3 separate regions of the Homo sapiens genome follow, and regions 2 and 3 are each linked to region 1. Evidence: fine-mapped expression QTL. A gene starts in region 1. Each other region holds a variant in brackets. All regions are shown on one strand. Distances are from middle to middle.

The links. PIP is the estimated chance that this variant, and not a neighbour inherited with it, causes the effect. A credible set is the group of variants that fine-mapping cannot tell apart.
Region 2: its variant is the best candidate, but not a certain one, in a credible set for the expression of DLX5 in skeletal muscle (GTEx, PIP 0.56).
Region 3: its variant is the best candidate, but not a certain one, in a credible set for the expression of DLX5 in tibial nerve (GTEx, PIP 0.66).

Annotation. Positions count from the first base shown.
Region 1 is chr7:97,019,490-97,030,204 of GRCh38, forward strand. It overlaps DLX5 (distal-less homeobox 5), which reads right to left and starts at 5,342. Exons shown (of 3, transcript NM_005221.6): 1 at 4,780-5,342; 2 at 2,696-2,880; 3 at 907-1,576. The coding sequence starts at 5,134. The coding sequence ends at 1,247. RefSeq lists enhancers at 1,454-2,653, 4,848-5,564, 6,491-7,006, 8,085-8,284.
Region 2 is chr7:96,989,818-97,000,532 of GRCh38, forward strand. The region is part of intron 1 of DLX6-AS1 (DLX6 antisense RNA 1); the gene reads right to left. Among named protein-coding and RNA genes, the nearest start is that of DLX6, 10 kb to the right of the region's middle. RefSeq lists enhancers at 2,650-3,175, 3,176-3,702, 8,456-9,399. The variant T/A (reference allele first, on the strand shown) is at 5,128.
Region 3 is chr7:97,064,721-97,075,435 of GRCh38, forward strand. No RefSeq gene overlaps it. Among named protein-coding and RNA genes, the nearest start is that of DLX5, 45 kb to the left of the region's middle. The variant A/C (reference allele first, on the strand shown) is at 5,513.

The sequences.
Region 1 (10,715 bases):
GGTATCTACATGCAGGAGTGCAAGAAGAAGGAAGGGACACAGGGCACAGCTGCAGCAAGTCCTTCCTCTCTGTCCCAAAGAAGGCTTCCCAAAGGAGAAATCCTAGTAAACAGATTCTATTTTGCATCATTTAGAACCTGTTTGCCACTGTTTTATGTAAAAGCAAAACAGAGGAAGCTCCTTCCTGAAAAAAGGAAGGCGGGAAGGGAAATATTAAGAGTATTATCTCACACAAAATGAAATCAACACGGCGCCACAATGCTTTCATTCCTTCCTTTCCCCAACCCTGAAGTTCCCTCTTCACAATATCTGCAATGTTTTCATCTCTCGAAAAGAGCCGATACATTTATAATCATACTCCAAAGAGTCCAAGGTTCTATCATTTGCCATGCTCCAAACATTTTAGATTTTTAAAAAATGTAATAGGTGTGAGGCTAGATTTCTTTTTCATTTTCTCATCTCTGGAAACTCCCTTTGAAGGGTAATTTGTCTAATTGCTCTGGCACTACACAGAGGCTGATGGGTGGGGGCGCTTCTCCAAGATAATTGCTTTGAGCTTAGAATTCAGAGGGGTTATTGAGGGATTTCTGTTGCCTTCTAACTCACATACAGGGTGAGAGGGATGTATTTTTATTTCAGCATTACTTTCTACCTGAAACAATTATGAGATATGGCAGTACTATAAACATGCCATATATATTATATATATATATGCACACACACACACAAAGTATAGCATTGAACATATATACATATACAGTCTGCATGCATAGAGCCCCGACTTCTGTTTTCTTTTTTGCCTTGTTGGATCTCTGCAGAGCTTGTCCTTCTTTAGTTGCCTTCAATAAAACTTCACTAGCCAGTTATCAGAGGGGCAGAATGAAGTATTTTTCAGAAACATTCCGCTTTTCATGGTCGAAATAATTTTATTTATCCAGAATATACAGTTTAATTCCTCTATCTACACTTATTTACATGGCTAAAATAACATTGAAAAAAGTCTTTTGAAAAGTTGAGGTCATAGATTTCAAGGCACCATTGAAAGTGTCCACAGTTGCGCAAAAAAAGTCCTCTGTAAAAAAAGGGGGGGTCTTTTGAAATGCAATAACTTACATGCAAAAAAAAGCTTTACACATGAATCTTTTTCAGTTTTCCGAACTTCCCCATATGAATTCCTTTCTTTATGATTTTCTAGAACAGCAAAACACAGTAGTCCCAAAAAAGAGAGTAAGAGAGAGCAGCCCATCTAATAGAGTGTCCCGGAGGCCAGCGCCAGCGGGTGCTGTAAGGAGCCCGGCGGCGGCAGGTGGGAATTGATTGAGCTGGCTGCACTTGTGTACCAGGATGCAGAGTTCTCCAGGTAGCTGGACGCTGGGGACTGGTTGGAGGTCGGAGGGTGGGCATGAGGGTGGTGGCTGAGCGAGCGGGACGAGCCCTGGGGCTCCCACACCGCTGGAGACTGCGGCGAGTTACACGCCATTGGGTCGCTGGAGCTGGGACTGTGCTCCGGGGGCATCTCCCCGTTTTTCATGATCTTCTTGATCTTGGATCTTTTGTTCTGAAACCAGATTTTCACCTGAGTTGGGGAACAAAGGCACACGTTACCGGGACACTCAGAGGTCGCCCGCGCCTTCCCCGGGGCGGCGACTGGAGGCATCTTCGGACCTCTGGGCGGCCCAGCCCTGCCTGGCGTCTCCCCGCCGCTTGCGGCCTACCGCCAAGAAGCTATGCCTTAGGCAAACCATGGAGCTCTGGCCCCAGAGGGCGCCCTGGCCGGCTCGGGGCGCCCCGGCCCAGCGAGGCCACGACCCCAAGGCTTGTCTTTTGTTTGGGCTGGGGGTGGGGGACGCCAGCGCGGCGGGTGTGCGCCCGAGTGTCCTCGGCGGCGGCGCGCCTCGTGTAAGCCTGCGCAGGACGCGCGGAACGCGGCGAAGGTCTCCAAAACAATCGCGCGAGCCCGGCGGGGAAGGGGCGTGGGGCGGGCTACGCGCGCCTGTGGTCAGAAAAAGGAGCGAGCTCCCAACCTCCCGTCCTACTCCCTTCACTCCCTCTGCAGCTCAGAGAGGCCAGAATCTGACTGCAGCTCTTGGCGGCGACTCGAACATTCTTTATGCTTCCGTAGGCCCCAGCTGGGTTGGAGGAGTAAAAGGAATGGGACAATCCAGGAAGACTTCTCACGTACAATAGCGCCCCCCACCTCGCGACCCTTCGGTGGCCGTGGCCTGAAGCTCCCGTAGGCTCAGGGCACGACCCTTCAGTTTCTCCGCTCCAGGCGACGTTCTCAGCCTTTTCTTAGCCTGAGACCACCGCGAGAACACCAGGCCTTGCTCACCCCCGAGGAGGCTCTACATTGTTAAGAAAACCAGATAGCTGCTCTGGGCTGCCTAGGCCGCCCTAGAAATAACCCTCCGCTTGCTTTCAACCCGCGAAATTGGCCCCACAGCTCCGGAGGCCCGCTACGGGGTGGGGGCGGGGGGCGCGGTTAGTGGGAGGTATCTCCAGACCGCTGATGAATACCATCCCCACCGTCTCAAGGCCTGACTCACCGAGTTAAAGCATAGGGGCTGATGTCTTTGGGTCTGTTAGTTTCTCACGGGTACTGTCAAAACAGCTCCAGTCCCATCGAGACTGAACCGCGCGACCCAACCAGACGTGCAGCTCAGGCAGGTCTAGTGCATGGCAGCGCCGTATTTACCTGTGTTTGTGTCAATCCCAGCGAGGCGGCCAGCTCGGCGCGTTCCGGCAAGGCGAGGTACTGAGTCTTCTGAAACCTTCTCTGTAATGCGGCCAGCTGAAAGCTGGAATAAATAGTCCTGGGTTTACGAACTTTCTTTGGTTTGCCATTCACCATTCTCACCTCGGGCTCGGTCACTTCTTTCTCTAAATAATCAAAACAGACTCAGTTAAAGCTTGTCACCAGACAATGCCCCTTTTGCGGAAGGGCCTCAAATAGAGTCCTAGAGTTTCTTACCACTCAGTCTTCATTCTTTGCCCATATCACCACCACCTTTGCTTTTCAGGACCGCGATAAATATGCACCTACCCCAAATATGGAAAAGCGGGATAGCCTCTGATTAATTCCTACTCTGTTCATTCAGATAGTTTGTGCAAAGCGCTTCCTACAACACTGCTTTCTCCTTGGCATCTGGGATTCAGCTCTTGCGGTCGTTGCTTCTTCTCCCGGACTTGTTTTTACGCCCACCCTGTGCTCCTCCGCGTTTCCGCCCCTCCCCAGGCTTCAAGAACACCAGCCCCTCCCCAGGCTTCAAGGAGGTGGCCCTGGGCCGTGACCCTACTTCTGTCGGCGTCTGTTCGGGCGCCCGCAGAAGCCAGACTCTTGGGCAGGGAAGACGCTAACCGAGGTCTCCAAAGTTCAAAGACCCACAAGCAAACTGCTCCTTCACTTCAGCAGCAAGCGGTCGGGGCCGCCGCAGACAGAGGGTCGATTATGCAACCCCCATAATCTCGCTGCAGATCTGCGAGGGCACAGATGTGTCTGGTTTCTTTTACAAATAGACTTAATATGTTCTTGGCAAAAAAAAAAAAAAAAAAAAGAAATCTTCCACTTATGCACGGAATACAGAGAGAGTGAAAGAAACGTAGACACCTCAACCCGGGGCTCTCTTTTAAAGTTCAGCAAGAGTCACACACTGAGAAGGAACCGGTGGTGGGGTGTTTTCGTAGGAAAGGGGCGGCAGGTCAGGATGAGATTCTCACTGTCATGAGTATGGGTTTGGGCGGGAGGGGGAGGGATTGCCAAACGCGTGTTGTACAAACCTGCCCTGGGGCTACAACTCCCCTTCCTCAAAACTACCACCCCTCTGGAACTGACGGAGAACCTCTCCAGGGTGTGTGTGTGTGTGTGTGTGTGTGTGTGTGTGTGTGTCAAGTTCCAGGGAGAAGTGTGGAGGATGAGGGCTGTGGTCTCAATTCTGCCAGAGTAGGGGATGCTAATATTAGCAGGATTATTAATGTGCTGGTGGGAAGAGATCAAACCTTACCAATAAAACCTCTCCGCCGAGCCTCATGCCTTTCTCTTACCGCCCAAGCTCACTAACCCTCTTAAACTCTCTAAGTAAGTTTCAAAGCGGACGAAAAAGGAGGACGGAAAGACAAATTGTGGGCGCCTATGGAGACAGAAAAAAAAATCTATCCTACAACGTGACCCCTCAGCAACCCTCCTCCACCTTTAAATGGCTTTTTGTTTTTGGAAATGCCTGGATAAACCGCAAAACTCTCGGCGCGCTCTTCTCTGGCTGGCTACAACTCCTTAACCCCCCCACCCCCACCCAGCGTGCTCAGGGCACCCGCACCGTGCTAGCTTGTGGCGGCTCTCAAACTAATCCTGACTGAGTTTTTGAGGCAGCCTTCTATTCCCACTCGCACCAACCCAGCACGCTTACCAAAATTCCCAAGTAACCTTCTCTTTGTTACGCAAACGCCAGGAGCTGCTTGATTCTTTCTTCTCTCCACCCCTATCCCCTTTCCAGCCTAGCCGGCTTCCTGGCCGGGCAAGCTGGGAATTCAGCGACTGAAGGGCCTTGGAAGGTGCCGGAGGGGAGAGACGCTAGTTCGAACCTCCACAGGGCTCTCCTACTAAAAATCCCTAAAATGCTGGCCCGAGAAACTCTCTTTGTTGGAGGGTCTGAGTCCTACTCCCTTCTGCCGCGTGCGCCCCCACTGCCGTGAACCGCTGTGACCCCCAATCTACCACCCCATCTCGCGCCCCCAGCGTCCTAGTCGCCCTGTATCTGCCCAGCCTTCCCCCTGTCCATGTACCTGGCTGGTTGGTGGCGCTTGGGACGCGGTTGTAGGCGCCGCCGTACTGGTGGTAGGAGCTAGCGTAGCTATAGTCGGCATAAGCTTTGGCTGGGTAGCTCCCGGCGGAGCCGTTCACGCCGTGATACTGATACTGGTAGGGGTTGAGAGCTTTGCCATAGGAAGCCGAGGTAGGAGAGCAGTAGCCGTGCGGGGCTCCCCCCGTAGGGCTGTAGTAGTCAGAATCGGTAGCTGAAGACTCGGGCAAAGTTGGCGATTCCTGAGACGGATGGTGCATAGCTGCGGACGTCTGGAACGGAGCTTGGAAGTCGCCGGATCGGATGCTGGGGACCCTTCTGTCAAACACTCCTGTCATCGCTCACGGGCGGCGGCAGCGGCTGTCCTTGCTGTTGTGGCGGCGGCAGCTGCCCTAGTTGGCTGTGGGGCTGCTCTGGTCTAAGCAGACATGGCTGTGGGAGCGAGGGAGGAGGAGGAAGAGGAGGAGGAGAGAAGGAGGAGGCGGCGGCCGCGGCGAGGAGGAGACTGGGAGTCGTGAAGTCTCTGTCTCCGGCCGGCTGACTGCTGGCTGAGGCGCAGCACAGCCTTGGTTAAATCCTTAATTGCGCGCTTACGCACAGCGGGGTGGATCTGGTTCTATTGGCCAGGGCCTCGGGAGCAACAGTAACACCCTAACTCGTCCAACTAGTTTTAGCACAACAAAGCATTGCTTAAAAAGGGGGTGGGGGGTACTGAGGGGGTGTGTGTGTTTGTGTGTGTGCGCGCCCGCGCGCTTGTGTGTGTTTTTGCTTGTTGTGGAGTGGGGAGGGGTCTTAGTCTATCTGTTTTTAGTAAATTCCAAAGACATCGCAGAAGCCACAGCACAAGGCTCTGTGATGTCTGGGGACAATGTGTTCCAATCAGAAGCCTCAAAAGTGCACATGTTTTGGGAATGAGGTGGGCGACCATCTTTCCTTGCTTCCCACTACCCCGCCCCCGTGGGCTGCACCAAAGGCGAGTGTAGAATTAAACACTGATACTGAAATAGGGAGTCAAGGTGCAGGGAGTGGGGAGCGGGGGGATGTAGGATGGAGGCAAGAAGGAAGGGAAACAGCATTTTTTTTTTTTTTAGTGGAGTGTTGGGAAGCAAGTTGTAACTTACATGTTTTGAAAATTTGCTCTTTGGGGAAAGAGGCAACTTCCTTTGCAGGAGATGAGTATCTCCCGGACGCGGGCTGGACAGGAATGCCCAAGAAGGCACAATGTCCATTAAGCCGGTGAATGGCAGGGAGAGTTCCTGCAGCCCAAAGTCCTTATAATGACTTTTAAAAATTACTGTCTTAAACACATATAACTTAAGGAAGCCCAAATCCTCGTTGCTGGCTTGCAAAAAGAGCCAAACAGCTCCACTTCTGTTTAATATTTTCATCTATTTTCAAGACATTGGAATAAAGGCTCTTTAACTATGTTCAGTGGCCAAAGACTCCCGCAAAGGTGAATGGATCCATGTATAACCTGCCATACCTCCAGGAAAGAATGGGAAAGTCTCGGAAGTGGGGAAGGAGACAAGGATCAAAGCCTTTGCAAAGTCAGATGATGCTCATTGATTTCCCCCTCCTGGCTCCATGAATGTGGCCCAGTCTCTCCATTTCCCAGACCCGGGTTTCTGTACCCTCTCCCCTTTATTTCCTGCTGCAAAGACATCCTACTTAGCTCGTATGCAAGGGAAGAAAGGATTCAAGAATCATTCAGTTGATACACGAGATCTAAACTTTGCTCTTCAGGAGGTGCTATCCTTGTTCTAGTCGTGATTCAGCTGGGAGTTTAGAAATTCAGCATAAAAGTCTCTCCCAATCCCCATTGTTACTCCCCTCAAATAGGCAACTCCGCGGACTAGATCCTGATTTGGGGCCTTCCTACATCTTCCTTTACGGGGTCCAAGACCGGCAATCTGGGAGTTCCACAGGCTATCTAGGGTTATCTGGCCTCCCCTCCGTTTTCCCTCCTACCGAAGAAGAAAGCGTCTGTGTTAGTTGTGTCTAGTATTAGTTTAGCCTTACTTGGAGTGTGGAGCCACTCGGCCTAAAACAGGCCGACGGGTAGAGGTAGGGTGTCTGGAACTCAGAGCAAGATACAGCCCCGCTCAGGAACTCCAAAGCAGAGCTGCCGTGCGTGCACCAACTCCCTGCCTTTGCGGTCTGGACTGCACCAGAAAAACACAGCTATTGTCGCACTTCCTTTCGGGGGAAACTTCAGCACCGGGAGACTGGCGCCCAGCAGCATTCTCCTTCTCCCACTGGCCCGAGTCACGAGCTTTGGGCCTGGGCTGCCGCGGGCTTCTCTGAGATAGACTTCGGGGTAAACAGAGCTGCAGCTGCCAGCCAGCCCTGACTTGACGCTGTCGATTACCGACAGGCTGTTAACCGTCTAGATGTAGGCTGTGAGGAGCTAAAGAACAGGAGGGAAACATGGGTCTGCGGTCCTGGGCTCTGCTCTGGAGAAGTTATCGGCGCCCATCGAGTCACCTGATACACACTGCCATTTAATTACAGAAATCGCTTCCTCAGATCAATGCCAAGGACAGTTCAAAGCACCTCCCGGCAAAGACAAGTGGGCAGGGAGCCAGGCCTCCCTTCCTCTGGTCCCCTATCTTCGACACTTTTGGTTAAATAGAGATTTGAGTTACCACATGGTTATACTGAACAGGGTGTTCCTAGCAATGCCCTTACACCTTGCTGAGATGGCAGATTCTAACCAGGATGGGATTGGAAGCTGCAGAATTGGGGCAAAATTTAGAAGTTCGGGATCCGATTGAAAATAATGTTACAATGTCAAATTAGTTCTAGACCTTGCTAAATTTCACCCCCCCAAAACCCCGCAGTCAAAATGGACATTCTTTCCCACATTTCATAAAAGACAAAAAGGAGTGGGCCGGGAGGGAAGAATTTAACTTCTTTGTTTCGGTTCCTAAAGCGTTAGAACGTTGGCCCTCACGCAGACTTGAGCCATTCTGCTGCTGGGTGAGACCAAATCTGGATGTGTCTCTACAGGTCCAGAGCCTCAACTTTCTTGATTTTGTTCCTCTTTTCAAGGTTGACCCCACTCCCCACTCCACCCCTTCCTTAAAGGCAGCCGGGAGGGAGAGGAAGCACTAAGTTAAAAGCAGCGGAGAGTCTGTTCACAGTACAGTTTTATTTAATTTCACAATATAGGCATTGTAGCTCTGTGCACTGCCGGCTGCTCTGCGGGCCTGTCTGCGGCTTCGGACCCACGCTCAGGACATACACCGGCCAGTATCCCGGCTCTCGGAGCAGCAAACTTTTGCTGGTGTTGTGAGGGAGTTCTCACACTAGGGCCTCCAGCTTTGTCCTAAGGCCAGCGGGCTGGACGCTATTGCCTCTCAAAATCCACCGACAAATCCAGCCGTGGAGAAACAGCCCCACGGCATCAAACTCTTCCAGCAGTGCGCTTCCCGCTGAGACACGTAGGAAGAATGTAAGTAATTTCATCTTTTAGTAGCTGAAATCTGCAAAGGGAGGGAAGGGGAAGTAGCGGGAGGGAAGCCCTAAGATAAGTGCAAGTCTTTACCACGAGCGCCACCCAGTGTCCTCGAGCAACATTGCGCAAATGGCAAACCCCAAGCTCAGTCACTGGCCAGACACCAACTGGTCCTTAGTGTTAGAGTTCACTTCCAGGTGGCTTTCTTTCTCTGTACTTCCAATACATCTTTCTCTCAATTCCCATGCCCTTTCCTTTCCTTCTTGTACATTCATACTTTTCCTTCCTCCTCCCACCGGCTCACCTTTTTCTGGGTCACCTTTTTCTTGGTGCCCCCTGTCCTATCCCTCAATTCTTAGGTGTAAGGCGCTCCTTCAGTGTCCCCACCTGGGGTGACTGGAAGGCATCAAGGATGACTCTCCTTTCCTAGCCTTTTATTATTATTATTATTATTATTATTATCATTATTATTATTATTATTATTTGGACAGAGTCTTGCTTTGTTGCTCAGGCTGGAGTGCAGTGGCATGATCTTGGCTCACTGCAACCTCTGCCTCCTGGGTTCAAGCGATTCTCTTGCCTCAGCCTCCTGAGTAGCTGGGATTACAGGCATCTGCCACCACGCCCGGCTAATTTTTGTACTTTTAGTAGAGGCAGGGTTTCGCCATGTTGGTCAGGCTGGTCTCGAACTCCTGACCTCAAGGAATCCACACAACTTGGCCTCCCAGAGGGCTAGCATTACAGATGTGAGCCACCGCCCCCGGCCGCCTTTCCTAGACATTTGTGAAGAAGCAGGCCCTCCTTTAGTTAGATGAGGTGCTTGGGAAGCTTTCGGTCATTCACTACTATGGGCTGAAAAGAGTGCCACTGAGTGTGCAGGGAGAGAGCCGCAGAAGGGGGTGGGGTAGCAGAAAATCTTAATAACAGCATTTACTCAACTTTCTCCATGTAGCCTATCTGGAGATCTGTTTACTCATAGAAGTGCCAACAGTAGAACACCTTTTCTTTTGGGCTTGAAACTCAGAAAATTCAGTGCAGTTGAAAATATTTAATTTACGAACTTAAGATATTTTTAATATGGAAACTTTCATTTATATAAAACATTGTACACATCAATTGGATGTGCATAATTCAGGTAAATAAAGGACCCCTTAATATGATGCTAGCATTGTATAGGCATACTTGGTATAAAAAGCACTTTGACTTTATCAGTAGAATACTCATTCTTTAAAAGTCCAGTTTTGGGGGTGAGGTTTATTTTTCTTTTTATTTGCACTGCTTTATCCATTATCTTTTTTTATCTGTCCAGTGAAAAATGCTCTGAGCAATTCACTCTTATCATGATCCATTTAGAGTACTTTTCATCCCAGAAATCTCAAACACAACAAAACTGGTTAAGTCAAACATTTTGTGGAGGTAGACCTGAGTAATCATTTTATTACAATGGAGCTGCAGTTATCTTTGAGCTGGGGCACTAAGGCCGTTTAATAACTTAAGGTAACAGCTCTGAAATATTCAATTTGATATTTGTATAGAAAAAGCACATTTCTTGGAACTAGGGTGGGATGAAAAGATAGGAGTTATGATTGCAAAAGTAGCAAAGGCTTTCAAAAATAGCACAAGTTGTTGGTCACTGGTTTTGGCAATGCAACTGAATGGCCTTTGTCTCCCAATAGAGGGCTAGGCACACTGACTTGGATCTAGCATTCAGAGGTGGTTCATCTGAGTTAGGAAAACTATTTAATTCCCCATGTAGGTTCAAACTTCTTCCCATGTGTTTATGAGGCTGAACTAACTAGGCCCAAGCTAAAATGTTTAGGAGCCCATTTAAATCAACAGTGAGCTTATCTAGGGAGAGAGAAGAGGGAAAGTGGGTGTGAAGGGTAACAGGATAAATAGAAAAAAGGTTTCCTCCCATGCTGAAATTAATTATAATATCCCCTTGCCCTCAAGAAAAATGTGTTTGGAGTTAAAGAGCATCCCCAACAAAGTAAATCTCAAAGGATTCACTAGTAGGCAATTATATAAATATTCTGAATAAATTAAAAATCCCCAGAGGGAAAAACTATTTTCCACTTAATTCCAACCTAATAAGATTTTTGGTTTATTTCCAAATGATAGGGCAGATCATAGACTTCTACACGTTTTGTTTTTATAATTAAGACATTAAAATATGTTTATTCATTTAACTTAAACATAACTAGCTAGGAAAACGCCTTAAGTATCCACTCAAATCTATTCTCTATGAGACAAATTTAATATACCACAGCTGAAAACACTTCAAGTTCATCTAACTAGGAAGTAAATGGGATTATATTATTATATGTCTTTGCAAACTGAAATTGAGGCATATTCTTCATCCTAAATTCGGATTTCATCTTCTTGAAAGGAAGGTTTGGCTGTGGTACTATTTACAAAACCTTTATTCTTCTTAAAGATATACAAATATTCCAAATTCTAAA
Region 2 (10,715 bases), 30 kb before region 1:
GAAATTCACCCGAAGAACCTTGTGAGTTGCCTCAACTGGAAAAGGAGTTGGGTCCAGAACACAATTCTCAGGGCCAAGAATAGGGGAGACAGAATCTCAGTACCTAAATACTCTATGCTCGCCCCCTAACTGTTTTCACCACAACAAACAAGCAAATTGGACTTTCTTGGGCCGTTTCCTTGCATTATTTAGCTTCATCTGACGGTGTCAACTGTTTTCTCATTATTATGCTGAATTTCTTAACAAGGAAATTTTCAGCTGAACTAAGATTGTTTGGAATCCATAACAAGGATTGTTCGGAATCTGTAACTAGGAATTGTGGCTGTCTGGAAGAAGTCGCCTGAACATTCTATTGGAGAAGTTCGGAACATCAATAACAACTCACCCTCTGCCTTTCTCTTTCTAATTTTATACTATTATTGTCTGTGCAGCCCTGGTTTGCCCAGCGGTGTCCTATCACGGGGAAACAGTCATGTAGCTAAAATCATAGTAGTGAGGGACCCATGATTCGTTTAAAAAATGTGAAGTTTTAAAATGTTGGATTTTTTTGAAGCTTGAACTACTATCTGAAATCTCGAATACAATTAGTCGTTGCGTCTTAAAGGCCTTTATATCATTGAAAATTTCCTAACAGCCTGTATAACTTTGAAACAAAACGTTAGTGTTATAATTCAATAAAAGTTATTTAATTATTAAAACACAGTGAGGGCCTCGTAAGTTTTATAGCTTCTGTCAAGACATTGCTAATGTGTGTATGTGCGTGTGTACATATATATGTACACACATATATATGTACACACACACACACACACACATATATATACATATACATATATATGTCAAGGAAGAAGCAAACCCAGATTTTAGGGTTGGATCTTTATTTAATATGTAATATCTATGAGGTATCCAAGTCCAGAAATCAACTCACCAGTTCTGTACAGGATTCTGTATGGAGATCAAATCTGGGATTTCTAAAGTTAAGAATTCAGGCCTTGGAAATGGATTAGATTAGATCTACCTGAGCTTATTTTAAAAAGAAAGAGAGGGAGGGAGAGAGAGAGAGACAGGGAGAGAAAAGAGAGACAGACAGACAGAATATACATATACATATATATAGAGAGAGAGAGAGAGAGAGAAATAGAGTATGTGTGTTATAGGCTGTTTTTTTTAAGATCTCATTTTTAAATGTCCTGTTTTGGATGTGATCCCTTGAGTTCAATACATGATCTTTTTCAACTTGCAAAGAATCTAAGTTTTGAGGAAGGGAAGCACAGGCTTCAGCCTCTATTTCATATTTTTAAAGTCACAGCACACCAACTCTTATATTTCCTAACTTAGAAACAAAACTTAAAAGGTAAATTTGGAAAATTAACTTAAAAGAGACACATAATAGAGGATAACTTATCTATATCTATCTGTATATCTATATATCTTTACAGAAATAAATGTTTTTAAATTAGTAAAGATCTAAGGGTAATTAAATTATATAGTATCCTGAAATACATAACATGGGAGGAGGGCCTTAAAAATTATTCCATCTAGCAATACTTGTATATACACAACTAGTAAGAAGTCCATAACTATCAATAGCCAGCAGTGCTTGCAAATTATATTGAATTGAAACGCTACTGAAAGAGTTTATCTTTCATTGTAGTTTGGAATTGTGTGAAGGTATGTTATGTACATGATCTATGTATATATAATTCTTATACTTTATATATATTTAGACATGCACTTCTTTTTAAATGTTTATGTGGTTAGTCACTTTAAGAGCATCAAAATAAATTGTGCGTTGGCTTACACTATCTCCCAGATATTCACAAACACTGATGAACAAAAATCTTTATATAGGAAATGAAGAGCTACCCATTTAAAGAAAAGAATGGAAAGGGGAACTCGATTTATTCTCATTTGTTTATCGCCAGATTTCCCCCCACCCCCCTGCAAATTCATTTGAATAGCTTTCAAGCCGGAAAATGGAAATGTGGCTCCTGCCCTCTATTTCAGCGGCAGCAGCAGCGTCCTGGCAACAGCGCAATTTTCTATCATCAAGGATAAATGGCATCGAACAGAACATTCTGATAAAAAAAAAAAAAAAGAAAGAAAAAGAAAGAAAGAAAGAAAAAAAGCTTCAGCCCAAGGAGCCCATGATTGCTGGCCTTCCTGTCTGTCATCCCTTTACAAAATCCTCTCCGCAAACCTGAGCGGCATGCTGTCAGAGCTAATAACGTCTTCTGAAGGGGCTGGGGGGCGGGGGGAGCACAGTCTTCCCTGCACAATGTTCCCATTTATTAAATCGAGTGCTTATTTTAAAATTGCAAATATCTTTGTTTGGTTCACTGAAAATTAAAACCAAGATGTAGGAAGCTACATGATGCGACAATTATTCGTGTCATATCAGAGAATCAAACCCCTATCTCTCCCTTCTCCTGGTTAAGGCTGGATGAGGGGGAAGGGGGAGTTTGGGGGTATTCGGGACAGGAGGTTTCTGGTGGAAAAATACAAATCGGTTCGCCCTGCAGGTAAGCTGAGAGTAACTGAAAGCCGGAGCAGCGATGCCTGTTTCTACCAGGAAGAAAGAGCTAACTGTGATTCCAGGAGCGCGTGTGGGCGCGGTCCTCGCCGCGACGCCGCGCGCGGGTCAGGCTCAACTGCGAACCTTGCCACCGAGCTTTCCCGCGGGAGGCTTCGAATATAACCTTGCCTATTTCTCGCCTACTGAGATTTCTTTCCAGAAAAGGACATTCTCCTGCTCCGAGGAGATGGATCCCTGAGGTCCCCATGCCCGCACAGGGTGTCCTGGAGGAGTTTAGAGGACACTCCTGGGGCCCTTCCCTGTGTAGTACGCTTATTCCCGAGGTGGGGGCTGAGAATCGAAGAGCAGCGCCCCCCACACTGGGATTGGGGGTGGTCGAGGGGCTACAGATGCCCGCATTGGGCTTCTTAGCGGCCTAGGCTGATGCCTGGAGGTAGGGGGGATTGGGTTTGGCTGGCGACTAGCTTTAATGCCCATCGAGTTCCTGGGACACCCAAGTTCAGCACTTCTGCATGAAACCGAAACGGCCAGGGAGGGGCGGAGTGGGCCGAGGCTGAGGGAGCGGCGGTGTTGACGCCCTCTTCCCACCCAGGATCGATCGATCGGTAGGGAATTTTTTATCTTTGGGAAGGAGAGGTGAGGAAGCGGACCTAAAACGAGGGGAAAATTCGAATTTAATATCCTGTATAGGAGGTCAAAAGAAAAAAAATGATGGCGAGGAATGCAGAGGGCCCTAAATGGACCCTAAGATGAAGTACGGGTGGTGGCTGGAGAGCTGGGACTGGAAGGTGGGGCTGGGGGAGACGGGTAAGCAGCTTGCTTTGGTGAGGAGCTCCCACGCTGAGAACGGTGGGAGGAGGGAATGATGGGGAAACCTTTGTTTAATGAGGAAACCTAATTATTGCGCATCTGGAAGTCTTAGTCCCTACTACCAGACGAAGGCGGGTACCTGAGGGATGCAGTGCGCATGCCCGAGCCGTCGGATTTGCATGATAAGGCTCGCACGTGAGCCAACTCCGGCGCAGCCCAGGCTGTGCCGCGGCCGGCCGCCAATGGAATCTTGCTCCTACTGCGCCTCCAGGTCACATTGACATCTCGGTTTCCCCACAATAGGCCTTTAAAACCCACTTTAAAAATAAAAAAGTGTTTTAGTATTGATTCTCGCCTAGACACGGAAGATGTCTGTAGGAAACTGACACGGTTTAGAACTACAACTACATTACTACAAGCAAGGGTTAAAGTATTCAGAATTTAAGAAAAAGTTAGAAGGCCGGAGAGAGGGGGCTGTTTAAAGAGCTCTGGCGGGAAGTCAAGGAATCCTGGGACTGCTGCCTTCGGAGCCCTGAGGCTAGGGCCAAAGCTGAATCTCTCTGAGCCTTACCTGTCACATGAAAATCACACCTACTTCATTAACCAGAGGAGCCTCAAAAGCAGAAACATTACCTGTGCAGGCCTGGCTTGAGAAAGCAACCCAAACTGAGAAAGCAACCCAAACCCACCCTTTCTCCACCTCATCCCCAGCCACACCTGGTGGCCAGGGAGATGGAAACTAGAACACCTGTATTCCATCTCTCTCCCTTTCCCAGACACCAAAGTGGTCTGTGGGGTGAGGGCCATGTGTTAGCTCCCTCCTCTGTGAAATGCTGCTAATTTTAGAAGGGCAGAAAAGAGAAAGGTAGAGAAGTGGCATGAATCACCACCATGGCTAGGCCTCTTGTCTCCACCCATGCTCTGAGGCTGGAAAGATGAGATTCTCTGGGGCTATAGAAAGGGTGGGCCAGCTGGGAACTATTACCCATCCTGCCCCTTCTGCACACCAAGGCTGCTCCCTGCCCTTCCTGAAGCACCATTCTGACTGTTACCAACCAACCACCTTGTATTCTTCTCACTATATATTCCTGCCAGAATTGCTGCCTACACATGGGCCTCCAGCGTCCCTAAGAGTGCTCATACCCTGTGACAAGAAAACCATTTGTTCTTACTGAAATAAAACATGTGGGGATTGTCATTTGCAGTTCCTCTCCCCTTTTGTGTAATTCACAAGTCTCTGATGTAGGATTAGGCTTCAAATGCATTTGGTCAAGTACATACATTTTAGTACTCAGCTTAAACAATGTCATGCTTAAAAGCACCTCAGCAATGCCTCTGTTTGTCTCTAGGTCTTTGTCACCCTCCAGGCCTATGATTATAACATGGCTTTTTGTTTCTTTTTTGAGAATGTGAACCAGAGCCCCACCCCAGCCCTCCAAAATGCAAGACACTAAAAAGTGACCTCAAGGTCTTACCTGCTCATCTAAAATCAATATTATTTGACCAATGAGTATTATGTCACATATCGTGTAAGCATATAGCTTCCAATAGCCACGTCTATTTTCAAATAAGGAGATACCTACCGAACCTTCAGAAATGCCAGCTGGTAGTTTCTGTATAGAACAACAAACTTTCTCACAATAGTGTTTTCGGATTGTCTTTGAAAAAGGTAAGCTTTCTCTAAACTGGCCCAATAAAATCAAAAGAGTGTTGGCTTCAATTATATAAGGCTGCAAAATGAGATAGCCATGTTGTCTAAAATACTTCTTGAACACTTTGGA[T/A]TTCAGAACACTTTTTCTTATAATAGACTTCTCTTTGTGCTTTAAGGAATAGGATAATGGTGTGTTTGAAAGGAAATATAGACCATAAAAAAGTCCATTAGCCAATCAATAATTGTCACAATCCTCAATTAAAGCAAAATTATCTTTCCTTGTCCTATAAGTGGCTGGAATAAACAAAGAAATTTTTCTTCTTGACCATTTTAGGTAAAATTGAACGAACATAAGTCTCAAATTCATGTCCTGGTCTCTTCCTAAGGCAGGTTTCAGATCATCCATAAGGCTAACTTTGATGACAACTCTCTGTCATCTCTGAAGAAGGAAAGATCAGCAGGCTGGGGGGTCTAGAGAGGGACACTGCAGTGTGGGCTCTGGACAGTGACCAGGAACCCATCATTGGCCACAACTTCAGGCTCTGGAGCTGCTGTTCACAGGCATCTTCAACTCCCACCTAGACTGCCCTGCAAAGTCTCTTTGTCTCACATTTGTGCTGACTTCCCATTGGCTCCTTCTCATTCCCCACTGTCACGGCTGGCCCTCAGCACCCTATGCCAGCAAGGCTAGTTGATTAAAAAACTATATACATATATTCACACACTGAGCTGGGAGCATTTCCTTCCCATGTAGCAAAGCCCCTCTGATTTAAGACTGGTCAAATTAATAGGAAACAGCAAAGGAGGTTAAAGAGGGAAATTATTGAGGACAATGACTGCAGACATGCAGTCTACAGTGCAGAGTCTGCCTTTTCCTGAGGATTCAGAGCTGTGCCCACAAATCAGATGGGCGGAACAATCCCCCATCCCACCCCCCATGTTTGGGGTCATTAGAATTAGAGGTAGCTTCAGGGGATTCCCTTTCCTCTAGCATGGGTCAGCCAGGAGGCAAGAAGGAGGCTAGGAGGCTGGGGACCCTCATCAGTCCCACTAAGCCTCCAGAAGGTATCTTTTCCATCTGCCCCTACTTGCTCCCCCAGTGGGTCCCGCGTGCCTAGCCCCCACACCCCCGCCTTGCGGGAGTTATTTTAATGACACTAAATGTGCTCCAGGAAGCTTTCCCCTCTCTCCCTCTCTCTCCCTCTCCCCCTCCCTCCCTCCCTCTCTCTCTCTCTCTCTCTCTCTCTGTCTCTCTTCCTCTCCTACTCTCTCCCTCTCTCTCCTGGGATCTCTCTCTCTCTCTCTCTCTGTCTCTCTTCCTCTCCTACTCTCTCCCTCTCTCTCCTGGGAGCTAACCCAAGCCTGTGCACCGGAGGGCAGCTGACAGCTGAGCGTGGCGGGGGCGGGGTTGGGGGTGGGGAGGTGGCGGCTGTTCCAAGCGCAGGATTCTGGAGTCCACCGGCGCTTGGGCAGGTAGCAAGCAGAGCTAGCTGCACGTTGCCCCGGCCGGCGTTTTCAAACAACTTGAATTACAGGCTACATCTTGAATATGAATTAGCCTTCCGCACTGGTGTGAATTCGCTTTGAAACTCAACTTGTCAAGTATGGTTTTAATTAAACATCTTCCGGCCTCGAAAGATTACATGTTTTGTAAAATATATTCTAGCATGAAATTTACTTCCACGATCTGAAATTAGTTTTTTGGTAAATGTTTTCATAAAAAAGAAATACGAGGTGTGTGTGTGTGTGTGTGTGTGTGTGTGTGTGTCAGAGAGAGAGAAGAGAAGGGGGGTATGAAGTAGTTTATATTCACTGCCTTCCTTTAAAACGTCCTACCAGCTGGACTTGGAGCCTGACAGGTCCCGGGTCCCAGGTCCCAGGCAGCCCCGGCCGGGGCAGGGCCAAGACCGCGTGCCCAGGACAAGTAAGTAACTCAAACCCGACCCGGCAAGCGTGGCCCAAGCTGCTTTTGCAGTTGGGGACAATTGAGCGGACACACAAGTTAATCCCGCACTGATTTGTTTCGGATCCATCTGCAGGACGCCTGATGCCTCCCCCTTGGCTGCTGCAGCGGACACCTGCCTCCCTCCCCATCCCAGACTGCTCTGCTTGTCCCATGAAAGCAGAGAAAAGAAACCATAGGGTGCGGAACGGACCTCAGTAGTATTCAAGACAACACTTCACCGTGAAATGTAAAGTTCTCCTTTAAGAATTCCTGCCTAATATTGAGAACAACAGCCATGTCAATTGATAGCCGTTCTAACAGACAGTCCGAACTGCTCCAAACCACTCTAAAAGCTTGCCTTGATGGAGAAGGGGCCTCTGGGGCCTCTCTATCACCTGCCTGGGGGCCTCTATTTCCCAAGTAGCCCTCAAAGAAAAAAGACCCTATGCTCCCGCGTAGGGGTAGGAAAAGTGCCTGCTATGATGGGTCTTTCTATTCAATACAGAATTAAGAGTTGGGTCCCTGTGGAATTCTCTTCCTAACTACTCTCTGAGGAACCAGCCAATTCTGACGGGATTTGCTGGATTCGAGCAAAACTTGGCGCACATGGGGTGGGGTGTGATGGGGAGCAGGAGGGAGGGGGGCGCATCTCCTTTCTTCCAGATAATTGGGACCCAGCAAAGAAGGAGGGGTGGAGCGGTAGGGAGAGTTATTTGCGGTCATCAACTGAAATAGGCAAAACCAATAACGCACCTCGCTTTTCGCCCTGTTTACTCCATCCCCATTCAGTGATTGGCAAAGCAGGCCCTGAAGGCAAAGGCAATAATTGCTCCGCGCTCTCCTTACTAGGGAAATGTGTAGGCATTTGAAGTGTACTAAAAATAAACGAAGGAGCGAGAAAATGAAAAGGGGACAGAGTGACAATTTGCGGCAATTAAAGCGTCTGCGCGCTGTTGCCGGAGGAACAGGGACCCACAGCGGTTTTTGTTTTCCCAGGCTTGATGATGTGACTAACTCGTTAGAGAATTTGCGTCCTAGGTTGTGTGTGTGTGTGTACTTGCGTGTGTGTGTGTACACGCGCGTGAGCATTCAGCAACCCAGGAGCCCACAGCAATGGCCGGATCCGTGGGGGAGGAGAGAGCCTAGAACCCTAAAAACTCCTTTGGCCTCCAGAAAGACCCCGGTGCAGCTCTCTACCCTAACCCCTAAGCCCCTCTCAAGTGAGAGCCTCTCAGTTAGTACTCAGTTGCCACGTCTCGCAGGAACTTTGGAGCAAGTTTTCAGCTCCCAGGTGTCCAACCTTTAAAAGGAAAAGCATAATAATACTAACCTTTCTTTCACGACCACGCGAAACGCAAAGGATGTGGAGTGGGGAGGGGAGGAAAAAAAAAGGGGCGGCCAGCCAAATCAAAGCTTGGGAGACATTTTGACAGTGCGCTTGAAATAATGCTCTTAATTTTTGGAAGGTTTTCAAGAAGGGGGTGGGGGGCACGTGGGAGAACCACAACTTTCTCCTGTCTGTCACTCAAGCGGCCAGAGAGGGCTCCAACCTCCAGCTCCCGCGGCAACACACAGTGGGAAATTGCTTCAAGATACAGTGGGGCTCTATTCTTTCTCTACCCCTGCCCCGCCTTTCCCGAGCAGTGAACTTCACAGAGAGGGTGGTAAGGGAGGGTTATCCTGGGTGTCAAAAATCTGTGCATAGCCTGAGATCAGAAGAGTTAACCCCAGGCCCTAGACCCAGCCCAGCGGCCAAACTGGCACCCCGTGCTGATCAGCCCCCGCATCCCCATATCTGCATCCCCATATCTACCTCCCCAGTCGGGGGTGGTGAGGTTTGGGGGAGGGGGGCGACACTACCATATGCATCCACCACCTAAGTCCAGCCCAGGCTGGCTTCAATGAAAGCTGGCAAATCCGGCGAATCTCGCAGAAATTTTCTTCGAACTTAATTCAATTTTAAAGTGGATTTTTACTATTAAAAACGCTGCCGAGCAACACATTGAATTAATCTGACTGTACGGTTTTAATTACAGTGAGGGTTTCTCTACAAATCTGTACAAGACAGTGGCTGGTTCTTGGAGGATCTCTGCCTCCTGAATTCCATTATCGGGCCCCTGGTTCCCTGCAGACGGCAGCTCGTGGGAGCCAGCTGCGGTGCGAGCGTTCAGTCGCCCTCTGCTTCTGCCGGGCCTCCTGGCTCCTGTCCCTCCTCCCTTCCTTCATCCCAGCCCCATGGAGAGCCCAGGATTCCTGCCTGTCATTTGAGACTGCTGAACTGATATCCTGAAACGCTACCCTTGCTTTTTAAACTCTTGGGCCCCAGACTTTTGAGCCCCCTGAGCATCGTTCTTAAAGTGGCTCGTTTTGTCTGGGAGGGTGACCTCTTGTGTAGTGTTTTTTGAAGGGTTCTCCTGCTTCGACTTAGCAGCTGTTAGAGTGGGCAGCGTGATGCCCAGTCTGTCTGAGGGGAAAGCAGGTTAGGAAATGGGGAGGAGAAAGGGGTAGAAGACTAGTGAAGAGCTTGGTTTGGGGGAGTCTAGGCCCCCCACCTCCAGCCCTACCCCCACCCCCATCTCCACCTCCTGGCCCTAGAGGAAATATACATGGCGTAGATCTGCAGGTAACAGGGCTGCTTTTATCAGCTCTCATTTTGTTCATTTGTTGTGCAATTAGCATTGTAGGGCAATGGTACCTAGCAAACAGGACCAGGTAGAAAACTTAAACACAAAAGGAAGCCGACTCATACTCAAACTCTTTTGTCCACTCTCTTATATTCTTTTTCTAACTCTCTTTCTATGTCCCCTGCTTTTGTCCCATTCTCTCCTTCCCTCCGCACAAAGTATGTGCGAGTAAAGACAGTGAATCCAAATATGAACCAGCAAAATGGACGCAACCTCTCAATGTGTATTTAAAGAATTGGAGGCTTTGAGCTCTGTCGGGGAAGGGCCCCACTCAGCAGAGTGCAAGGGATGAGGAGCATTTTGGCTCTCTGCACAAAATTTGTAAAACCTGCCAGGAAAAAAAAAAACCAGTAATTATTCCATTCCCAGGGTAGTGGGAAGGGGGCTCTCTTTCTCCTAGATGCGTGTGTGTGTGTGTGCGCGCGCGCGCGCGCGCTTTAAAGGAGTCTCTTTTCTGAACAAGAAAAAAGAGAGAAAGAAAGAGAGAGAGAATGAATGGGCACAGTTGGGAGAATGGAATGTGAAAAAACAAAAACAACCTTAGCTTCTAAGGGCATTCAAATTTGTTGCCCTCTAAAAAAGTTTTACTAAAAAGCTAATAAATTACATTTCCATTTATTGGGATATTCCCAAATAAAGGAGATAAGGAGTATTTATGAACAGGTATGAGTATAAAAGTCACCAGTTCATATATATCACAAGAGTAGACAGATACAGAACAAACTCACCCTCTCTCTTTCTCATGAAAAACGGTTTTCATTTATTTTTCTGTTATAACAAGAGGACCAACATGATAGCAAGGGGATGTTTTCATCCCAGGTTTTCCTGAAGAGTTGTCCCAAGCAGGGCTGTCCTTTAATGTTAGGCATTTTCTGTGACCTTGCTATTGTTACTGCTGATGAAGCGATGAAGGAATTAAACAGAAGATGCTTGGAGGCATTTAGGAAGACAGCTATATTAACTCCTTATTATGCCTAAAAATAGTCTACTGTTTCCTGTTGATACTTGTTCCCTACCACTATAAGGCTGTATTTATCCTCCAATGGTCAGGGGTCCCTGCTTTCCAAAGACTGGCTTGCTTAAAGCTGA
Region 3 (10,715 bases), 45 kb after region 1:
GGAGGCTGAGGCAGAAGAATGGCGTGAACCTGGGAGGCGGAGCTTGCAGTGAGCCGAGATCGCGCCACTGCACTCCAGCCTGGGCGACAGAGCAAGACTCTGTCTCAAAAAGGAAAAAAAAAAAAGAAGCAATAGCACAGCCCTGCCTACAGTACCTCAGAAAACCCAGTGCTAACGAATTGTTACGAACCCAGTGTAACGAATTGTATTAAGAAGCAAAAATGCAAAAACAGCAGCCTGATTATTTTTAAAATTATAACATACCCTCAGGTAAGTAGCTTGAATTTGCCTCCCGGGCAGAGATTGGATGTGGAGGAGAGCTGAGTTGGGAAGCATTTTGGCTGCAAGTATTAGAGATTTTAAATTTTTCTCCTGAACTGAAAAAGTTCCATTGTAAGCCCACTGAATACTGTGCATCTAACCTTGAGGCAACCTAGCAACAGTGACATCTAGTGGTCACACTAATTGCATCTCCTCACCTCTCTTCCTCCCCAAACCCTTCCCAAAAGAGTGATATCAGAGTTAAGCATTTAAAGTTGAATCTCTCTGCTAATATCTACCCTTAAATGGTCTTTCTGGGTCTCTAAGTTGTTTCAAATACAAGTATTGATAGATCAGGGCTAAAATGTTTAACTGAGTCTTTCTTTGATTTGTATGAAAGTCACCTTGCAATATAGCAAAAGGAGAACAATCGGGCCCAAATATTAAAAAAAAAAAAAAAAAAAAAAAAAGACAAAACAAGTCTGACAGCCCGAAGATCTTCGTCATGATTAGAACGCTCAGAGTTGCTTTGTCCTGCTCCTATACTCCATCACACAGAAGGCTGCCACCAGACTAATCTCCCCAAATAGTAACTGTCATCAATGCTTCAGTTGTCCCCAGCTGCCCACCACATTGAATTCATACGTACCTGCCTGGCTTTCAAAGCACTCATAAGAATCACCCACTGTACTTATTTCTAACAATTCCTCATTTCTCTACTCCAGCCAAGTTAGTTTCTTTTCTGTTCTCTGGATCCATCATAGTCCTTTCTCTTTTCTTGCCTTTTTTCCTCCTTTTCTCGCTCCTTTCTTCTCTGATATCTATTTTTCAAAGCTCATTTTAAGTTCATCCCTTCTACAAAGCCATATCTTCATTATTGCTCAAGCCTATGCCGACCTCTCATTTCTCTGAATTTCCATTTCATTTACACTTAGTACCACTCAGTGAAGCATTAAATGGCTTCACTGGTGTTTCAGGCTTCTTGGTCTTGTCTCATCTGCAAGTTTTAAAACTCTGCCAAAGCAAGAGTTGATATCTTATATGTCTTTTTGTATTTTCCATAGTCGTTTATTTTGTTTGTTTGTTTTGTTGCTGTTGTTGTTTAAGACGGAGTTTCGCTATTTTACCCAGGCTGGAGTGCAATGGCACCATTTCTCCTTGCTGCAACCTCCACTCCCCAGACTCAAACGATTCTCCTGCCTCAGCCTCCCGAGTAGCTGGGATTATAGGCATCTCCACTACCACACCTGGCTAATTTTTACATTTTTAGTAGAGATGGGGTTTCGCCATGTTGGCCAGCTGGTCTTGAACTCCTGACCTCAGGTAATCCATCCACCTCGGCCTCCCGAAGTGCTAGGATTACAGGCATGAGCCACCATGCCTGGCCCATAGTTTTTAAATGATGTAACATATCTAAAACAAATCCTCATCTAAACCATTCCTTAATTTCTCCTCAAGTTTCAGTGGAACAACTCTATCTCTTCTTGTCCAACTAGTTGGTGGACTCTAGTTTTTAGTAACTGTTAGTATAATGTTAAGCTGAGATACGAAACAATAAATAAGCCTTATACCAACTTGAGTTGTTGTAAAAATGTATTCCCAGAACATTTTCAAGGGAACACCAACATAGAATGAATTATTTTACAAACATTAGATACTATACAACAGAGCAAAATGACAAAATAGTGTGGAAATCTCTCTTTGTATTTGAAAAGCTCTATTTCCCTTCCTTTAGGAAGATCATCTACTATCTACTCCAAAAATGTTATCCTATATCTGTAACTCAAGTTCTGTTCACTATTGTTTGATGGCTCCCTGCTTTTCAAATCGATGGTACACTATCATGGATTATCTAAGGAACACCGAGTGCCAAAATAAATTCCTAGTTTCTATTATGTTTTAAATAAAGGGAACTTACATATCAGAATTTGGATAAATAATATTTAAGATTCTATTCCATATCCACTAAGCATTGGCCGGGTTAATACCACATTGGTTAAGATTCAACTGAAGGATTGAATTTTCTCCTGGTCACCACGTTTTTAAAGAGACAGACAAATTGGAGAGAGTTCAGAGGGGAAGAACAAAAATGATCAAAGGTTTGGAAAATCAGCTCTGTGAGGAAAGGTTAAGAGAATAAGGCCTGTTCTGCCTAGAGAAGAGAGAACTGAAGGGCCATAATAACTCTCCAAAATACATAAAAGAATGTTTCCAGGAGGAAAGGGACCAATTATCCTCATTAGTCAACAAGGATAGGACTAGGGATAATGGGACTTAAGTTGCAGCAAAAGGAAGAAAAAAAAAGATTAAATATTATGAAAACCTTCATTTCAAGGCTAGGCCTAATGCTTTTTCTGAGTTAGGGATAAAGAAATCGTCCCTCTGTGATGATAGGGAAAATATCAGAAAATTATCAGAGAAAACCTTGGCAACTCAAGAATTATAAAGGAAAAAAAGATGAAATTTTGATGTTATGCTTAAAATGTGCATAACATTCTCCACTCAAACCCAATGAGGTAGTTATTTTCACCAAAAACCATAAAAATACATACAGAACACATAAAAACAAAGATGCACAGACAAACAAATACAAATGAAGAAAGACAATTACCTATTCCCATACTCTCTTGGCTCATCTTTCACAGGATTAATGCATAAAATAGGTTTTATCTTAAAATAATAAAACATTAGTGCCCTTTGTTCCTTGATTTAATATAGTCATCATATTAAAAAGTGGTGGAACTGATAGAGTTTTAAATACAGATAAATCAAGCATGCATAAAATAATGATGGAGTGGAAGAAAATATAATACATCTGAAAAAAATCAGCATTCATTTGCATATGATTTGTTTTTGTTGCATGTCATTTACCTTGGTATATTCTTAAGGCCCTACTTCTCTGAGAAGGTGGGAATTATCCAGTTGAATGCATTATCTTCATTCCTTTATATCTCAGCACAACTCTGATTGTCAGTCTCCATTTCTCCATTGCTTTCTTCTCTCAATGCATATTTATTGATAACCTGCTGTTTGACCAGGAACTAGGCCAGTGTTTTCACTCACCTTTATTCAATCAATCATTCAATCATTTAGCCAATGAATATTTATTGAATGTCTTCCATATCCTGGGCACCTTGATAAACACTCTGGCTAAGGCTGAGGACAAGACATACTTTGTCCCTGCCCTCATGGAGTATACATTTTGACATAAACAAATACATATGATGTATGAGGAGTGTTGAGGAGGGGAAGTAAAGGGTGCTATGAGAGCACATAGCGGGAGAACCTAAGTTAGTCTAGGGAACACTGCCTTACAAATGAAAGTTAGCAGGTAAATAATGGGGTGTGGGTAGAGGAAGGGGCAAGTATTCCAGGTAAACTGGTAGAGGAATAGCATGTGAAAAATTTCAGAAAGAAGAGAGACAGCAATGGTGTTTATGAATTTATATATTTTATGAAATTACCTTAACCAGCCTTTTCTATAAAGTGAGATTGGGCAGTACAGTAACTATGTCTGTACTTGGAAACATTGAAATTATCTATAATATTTTTCATTTTTAAGATGTCAGTGATTATATGATGAACTGCCATTTTAATCATAGTTTTTTGGGTTTGAAAAACACCTCTACGTTAAAATGGGAAAATAATGTGTCTTGAATATATTTGCACTTGGTTTTACAAAATGGGATCTTACCATATACATTGTTCTGAAACTTTATTTTTTGGAAAATGATCATATTTTCATTATTTGGGGATAAATTTGATTTTCAGACACAAAAATAGTCATTTGGCACTTGGTCTTTTGATGGTCAAAAACAAAAAAACAATACTAGCTAATTCTAACAGAGGTTTTACACAATATTTTTTGCACTATTCACATAAATGTATAGCATCTTGAGATGTGTAGTTTAAATGCTATTCTTTTGGATTTATTCATTTTGCTACTGCTTTTCAAGGTCTATATAGTTAAATTTTGATATTACAAATAATCTGGAAAATAAAACATTTACTTGAAAGTCTCTAGTGGGGCTAGAGGAATTTTGTTTCTCAGAAGATCATCATGAAAGGAGGGTTGATTGGGTAACAGCTGAAATGGACATAGCCACTGCTTTATCAACTCCAAGTCTTCCTTGCTCCTCTCCATCAGAGAGTCCTATGGTGAACTGGCCTGAGGGATTCAGCTCTCAGTTACAGGAATAAGAAGAAACCTCAGAACACTGAGACCATGAGGGAATGGCTCCTCAGTAGTAGACATTCTTTTTTATTTAATCAGGTTAATATTTTTATTTTTAGTTTTTACTTTTTTTATGTTTCCATAAGTTATTGGGGTACAGGTGGTATTTGGTTACGTAAGTAAGTTCTTTAGTGGTTATTTGTGAGATTTTGGTGCACCCACCACCCGAGCAGTATACACTGCACCATATTTGTAGTCTTTTATCCCTTGCCCCCCTCTGACTCTTCTCCTCAAGTCCCTAAAGTCCATTGTATCATTCTTATGCCTTTGTGTCCTCATAGCTTAGCTCCCACATATCAGTGAGAAGATACAATGTTTGGTTTTCCATTCTCGAGTTACTTCACTTAGAGTAATAGTCTCCAATCTCCTCCATGTCACTGCAAATGCTGTTAATTCATTCCTTTTTATGGTTGAGTAGTATTCCATCATATATACCACAGTTTTTTTATCCATTTGTTGATTGATGGGCATTTGGGTTGGTTCCATAATTTTGCAATTGTCAATTGTGCACTATAAACATGCATGTGCAAGTTTCTTTTTTGTATAATGACTTCTTTTCCTCTGGGTAGATACCCAGTAGTGGGATTGCTGGATCAAACAGTAGTTCTACTTTTAGTTCCTTAAGGAATCTCCACACTGTTTTCCATAATGGTTGTACTAGTTTACATTCCCACCAGCAGTGTAGAAGTGTCCGCTGTTCACCTCATCCATGCCAACATCTATTATTTTTTTATTTTTTTTATTATGACCACTCTTGCAGGAGTAAGGTGATATCGCATTGTGGTTTTGATTTCCATTTCCCTGATCATAAGTGATGTTGAGCAGTTTTCATACATTTGTTGGCCTTTTCTGTATATTCTTTTGAGAATTGTCTATTCATGTACTTAGCCCACTTTTTGATGGGATTTTTTTTTCTTACTGATTTGTTTGAGTTATTTGTAGATTCTGGATATTAGTCCTTTGTCAGATGTATAGATTGTGAAGATTTTCTCCCACTCTGTGGGTTGTCTCTTTACT[A/C]TGCTGACTGTTCTTTTCCAGTGCAAAAGCTCTTTAGTTTAATTAGCTCCCAGCTATTTATCTTTGTTTTTATTGCATTTGCTTTTGGGTTCTTGGTTATTAAATCCTTGCCTAAGCCAATGTCTAGAAGGGTTTTTTCCAATGTTATCTTCTAGAAATTTTATAGTTTCAGGTCTTAGGTTTAAGTCCTTAATCCATCTTGAGTTTATTTTTGTATAAGGTGAGAGATGAGGATCCAGTTTCATTTTCCTACATGTGGCTAGCCAATTATCCCAGCATCATTTGTTGAAAAGGATGTCCTTTCCCCACTTTATGTTTTTGTATGTTTTGTCAAAGATCAATTGGCTATAAGTATTTGGGATTATTTCTGGGCTCTCTATTCTGTTCCATTCGTCTATGTGCCTATTTTTATACAAATATCATGCTGATTTGGTGACTATGGCTTTATAGTATAGTTTGAAATCAGGTAGTGTGATGCCTCCAGATTTGTTCTTTTTGCTTTGTCTTGCTTTGGCTATGTGGGCTCTTTTTTGGTACCATATGCATTTTAGAATTGTTTTTTGTAATTCTGTGAAGAATGATGATAGTATTTTGAGGGGGATTACACTGAATTTGTAGATTGCTTTTGGCAGTATGGTCATTTTCACAATATTGATTCTACCTATTCATGAGCATGAGATGTGTTTCCATTTGTTTGTATCATCTATGATTTCTTTCAGCAGTGTTTTGTAGTTTTCCTTGTAGAGCTCTTCCAACTCCTTGGTTAGGTATATTCCTGAGTTTTGTTTTGTTTTTTTCAGCTATTGTAAAAGGGGTTGAGTTCTTGATTTGATTCTCTGCTTGGTCACTGTTGGTGTATAGAAGAGCTACTGATTTGTGTACATTAATCTCGTATCTGGAAACTTGGCTGAATTATTTTATCAGTTCTAGGAGCTTTCTGGAGGAGCCTTTAGGGTTTTCGGGGTAAACAATCATAGCATCAGCAGATAGTGACAATTTGACTTTCTCTTTATCGATTTGGATGCCCTTTATTTCTTTCTGTTGTCTGATTGCTCTGGCTAGGACTTCCAGTACTATGTTGAAGAGAAGTGGTGACAGTGGGCATCTTTGTCTTGTTCCAGTTCTCAGAGGGAATGCTTTCAACTTTTCCCCATTCAGTATAATGTATGCTTTTTCTGCATCTATTGAGATGATCATGTGATTTTTGTTTTTAATTCTGTACCATATTTATTGACTTGTGTATGTTAAACCATCCCTGCATCCCTGGTATGAAACCCACTTGATCACTGTGCATTGTCTTTTTGATATGTTGTTGGATTCAGTTAGCTAGTATTTTGTTAAGGATTTTAGCATCTATGTTCATCAAGGATATTGGTCTGTAGTTTTCTTTTTTGGTTATGCCCTTTTCTGGTTTTGGTATTAGGGTGATGCTGGCTTCATAGAATTAATTCTGGAGGATTCCTTCCTTCTCTATCTTGTGGAATAGTGTCAAAAGGATTGGTACCAATTCTTCTTTGAATATCTGGTGGAATTCTGCTGTGAATCTGTCTGGTCCTGGACTTTTTTTGTTGTTGTTGGTAATTTTTTAATTACCATTTCAATGTTGCTGCTTGTTATTGGTCTGTTCAGGGTATCTAATTCCTGATTTAAGCTAGGAGGTTTGTATTTTTCCAGGAATTTATCCATCTCTTCTAGGTTTTCTATTTATGTGCCTAAAGGTGCTCATAGTAGCCTTGAATGATCTTCTGTATTTCGATGGCATCAGTTGCAATATCTCCTGTTTCTTTTCTTAGTGAGGTTATTTGCATTTTCTCTCTTCTTGGTTAATCTTGCTAATGGTCTACGAATTTTATTTATCTTTTCAAAGAACCAGGTTTTTGTTTCATTTATCTTTTGTATTGCTTTTTGTTTCAATTTCATTTAGTTCTGCTCTGATCTTGGTTATTTCCTTTCTTCTGCTGGGTTTGTGTTTGGTTTGTTCTTGCTTCACTAGTTTCTTGAAGTGTGACCTTATAGTGTCAGTTTGTGCTCTTTCAGTCTTTTTGCTGTAGGCGTTTAGGGCTATGAACTTTCCTCTTAGCACTGCTTTTGCTATATCCCAGAGGTTTTGGTAGGTTTTGTCATTATTGTTGTTCAGTTCAAATAATTTTTTAATTTCCATCTTGAGGCTGGGCATGGTGGCTCATGCCTGTAATCCCAGCACCTTGGGAGGCTGAGGCAGGCAGATCATGAGGTCAGGAGATCAAGACCATCCTGGCTAACATGGTGAAACCCCGTCTCTACTAAAAAATACAAAAAATTAGCTGGGCGTGGTGGCGGGTGCCTGTAGTCCCAGCTACTGGGGAGGCTGAGGCAGGAGAATGGCATGAACCCAGGAGGCAGAGCTTGCAGTGAGCTGAGATAGCGCCACTGCACTCCAGCCTGGACGACAGAGCGAGACTCCATCTCAAAAAGAAAAAAAAAATTCCATCTTGATTTCATTTTTGACACAATGCTCCTTCAGGAGTAGTTTATTTAATTTCCATGTATTTGCATTGTTTTGAAGGTTCCTTTTGGAGTTAATTTTCAGTTTCATTCCACTGTGGTCTGAGAGAATGCTTGATGTAATTTCAGTTTTCTTAAATTTATTGAGACTTGCTTAATGGCCTATCATGTGGTCTATCTTGGAGAAAGTTCTATGCGCTACTGAATAGAATGTGTATTCTGAAGTTGTTGAATGAAATGTTCTGTATATATCTCTTAAGTCCATTTGTTCCAAGGTGTAGTTTAAATCCATTGTTTCTTTGTTGACTTTCTCTCTTGATGACCTCTCTAGTGCTGTCAGTGAATTACTGAAGTCTCCCACTATTATTATGTTGCTGTCTATCTCACTTCTTAGATCTATTAGTAATTGTTTTATAAATTTAGAAGCTTCAGTGTTAGGTGCATATATGTTTAGGATTGTGATGTTTTCCTGTTGGACAGGAATATTACTATTATATAAGGTCCCTCTTTGTCTCTTTTAACTGCTGTTGCTTTAAAGTTTGTCTTGTCGGATATAAGAATAGCTACCCCTGCTCAGTTTTGGTATCTATTTGCATAAAATGCCTTTTTCCACCCCTTTACTTTAAGTTTATGCAAGTCCTTTTGTGTTAGGTGAGTCTCCAGCAGATAGTTGGTTGGTGAGTTCTTATCCATTCTGTGGTTCTTTATCTTTTAAGTGGAGAGTTTAAGCCATTTACATTCAACATTAGTATTGAAATGTGAGGTACCATTGCATTCATCATGCTCTTTGCTGCCGGTGTTTTTTGTTTTTGTGTGTGTGTTTTAACCTGTATTTTCTGTTTTTTTAACCTGTATTTTTGTTTTATAGGTCCTGTGTGATTTATGCTTTAAAGAGGTTCTGTTTTGATGTGTTTCCAGGATTTGTTTAAAGATTTAGAGCTCCTTTTAGCAGTTCTTGTAGTGGTGGCTTGGTAATGGCGAATTCTCTCAGCATTTGCTTGTCTGAGAAAGACTATATCTTTCCTTCATATATGATGCTTAGTTTTGCTGGATACAAAATTCTTGACTGATAATTATTTTGTTTGAGGAGGCTGAAGATAGGGCCCCAATCCCTTCTAGCTTATAGGGTTTCTGCTGAGAAATCTGCTGTTAATCTGATAGGTTTTCCTTTATAGGTTAGCTGGTGCTTCTGTCTCAAAGCTCTTAAGATTCTTTCCTTCACCTTAACTTTGGACAACCTGATGACAATGTGCCCAGGCAATGATCTTTTTGTGATGAATTTCCCAGGTGTTCTTTGTGCATCTTGTATTTGGATGTCTAGGTCTCCAGCAAGGCTGGGGAAATTTTCCTTGATTATTCCCCTAAATGTGTCTTCCAAGCTTTTAGAATTATCTTTTTCCTCAGGAATACCAATTATTCTTAGGTTTGTTTGTTTAATATAATTCCAGACTTCTTGGAGGCTTTGTTCATATTTTCTTATTCTTTTTTCTTTGTCTTTGTTGGATTGGGTTAATTCAAAGACCTTGTCTTCTAGCTCTGAATCTTTCTTCTACTTTTTCAATTCTATTGCTGAGACTTTCCAGAGCATTTCACATTTCTAAAAGTGTGTCCAAAGTTTCCTAAATTTTTGACAGTTTTTTCTTTAAGCTACCTAGTTTCTTGAATATTTCTCCCTTCACTTCTTGTGTCATTGAGAGACAGAACTAGCTGGATTTCCTAGGCTAACTAAGAATCCCTAAGCCTAGCTGGGAAGGTGACCGCTTTTACCTTTAAACCTGGGGCTTGCAACTTAGCTCACACCCGACCAATCAGGTAGGAAAGAGAGCTCACTAAAACACTAATTAGGCTAAAACAGGAGATAAAGAAATAGCCAATCATTTATCACCTGAGAACACAGTGGGAGGGACAGTGATCAGGATATAAACCCAGGCATTCGAGCTGGCAACGGCTACCCTCTTTGGGTCCCCTCCCTTTGTATGGGAGCTCTGTTTTCATTCTATTTCACTCTATTAAATCTTGCAACTGCATTCTTCTGGTCCGTGTTTTTTACGACTCGAGCTGAGCTTTTGCTTGCCGTCCACCACTGCTGTTTGCCGCCGTCACAGACCTGCTGCTGACTTCCATCCCTCCGGATCCGACAGGGTGTCTGCTGTGCTTCTGATCCAGCGAGGCGCCCACTGCCACTCCAGATCAGGCTAAAAGCTTGCCATTGTTCCTGGATGGCTAAGTGCCCAGGTTCATCCTAATGGAGCTGAACACTAGTCACTGGGTTCCACGGTTCTCTTCCATGACCCACGGCTTCTAATAGAGCTATAACACTCACTGCATGGCCCAAGATTCCATTCCTTGGAATCCATGAGGCCAAGAACCCCAGGTGAGAGAACATGAGGCTTGCCACCATCTAGGAAGTGGCCCGCTGCCATTTTGGAAGCGGCCTGCCACCATCTTGGGAGCTCTGGGAGCAAGGATCCCCCGGTAACATCATTTCTTAGATTTCCTTGTATTGGGCTTCGCCTTTCTCTGATGCCTCCCTGATTAGCTTAATAACTAACCTCCTGAATTATTTTTCAGGTAAATCAGGGATTTTTTTCTCAGTTTGGATCCATTGCTGGTGAACTAGTGTGATTTTTGGGGGGCTGCTGAAGAGCCTTGTTTTGTCATATTACCAGAGTTGGGTTTTCTGGTTCCTTCTCATTTGGGTAGGCTCTGTCAGAGAGAA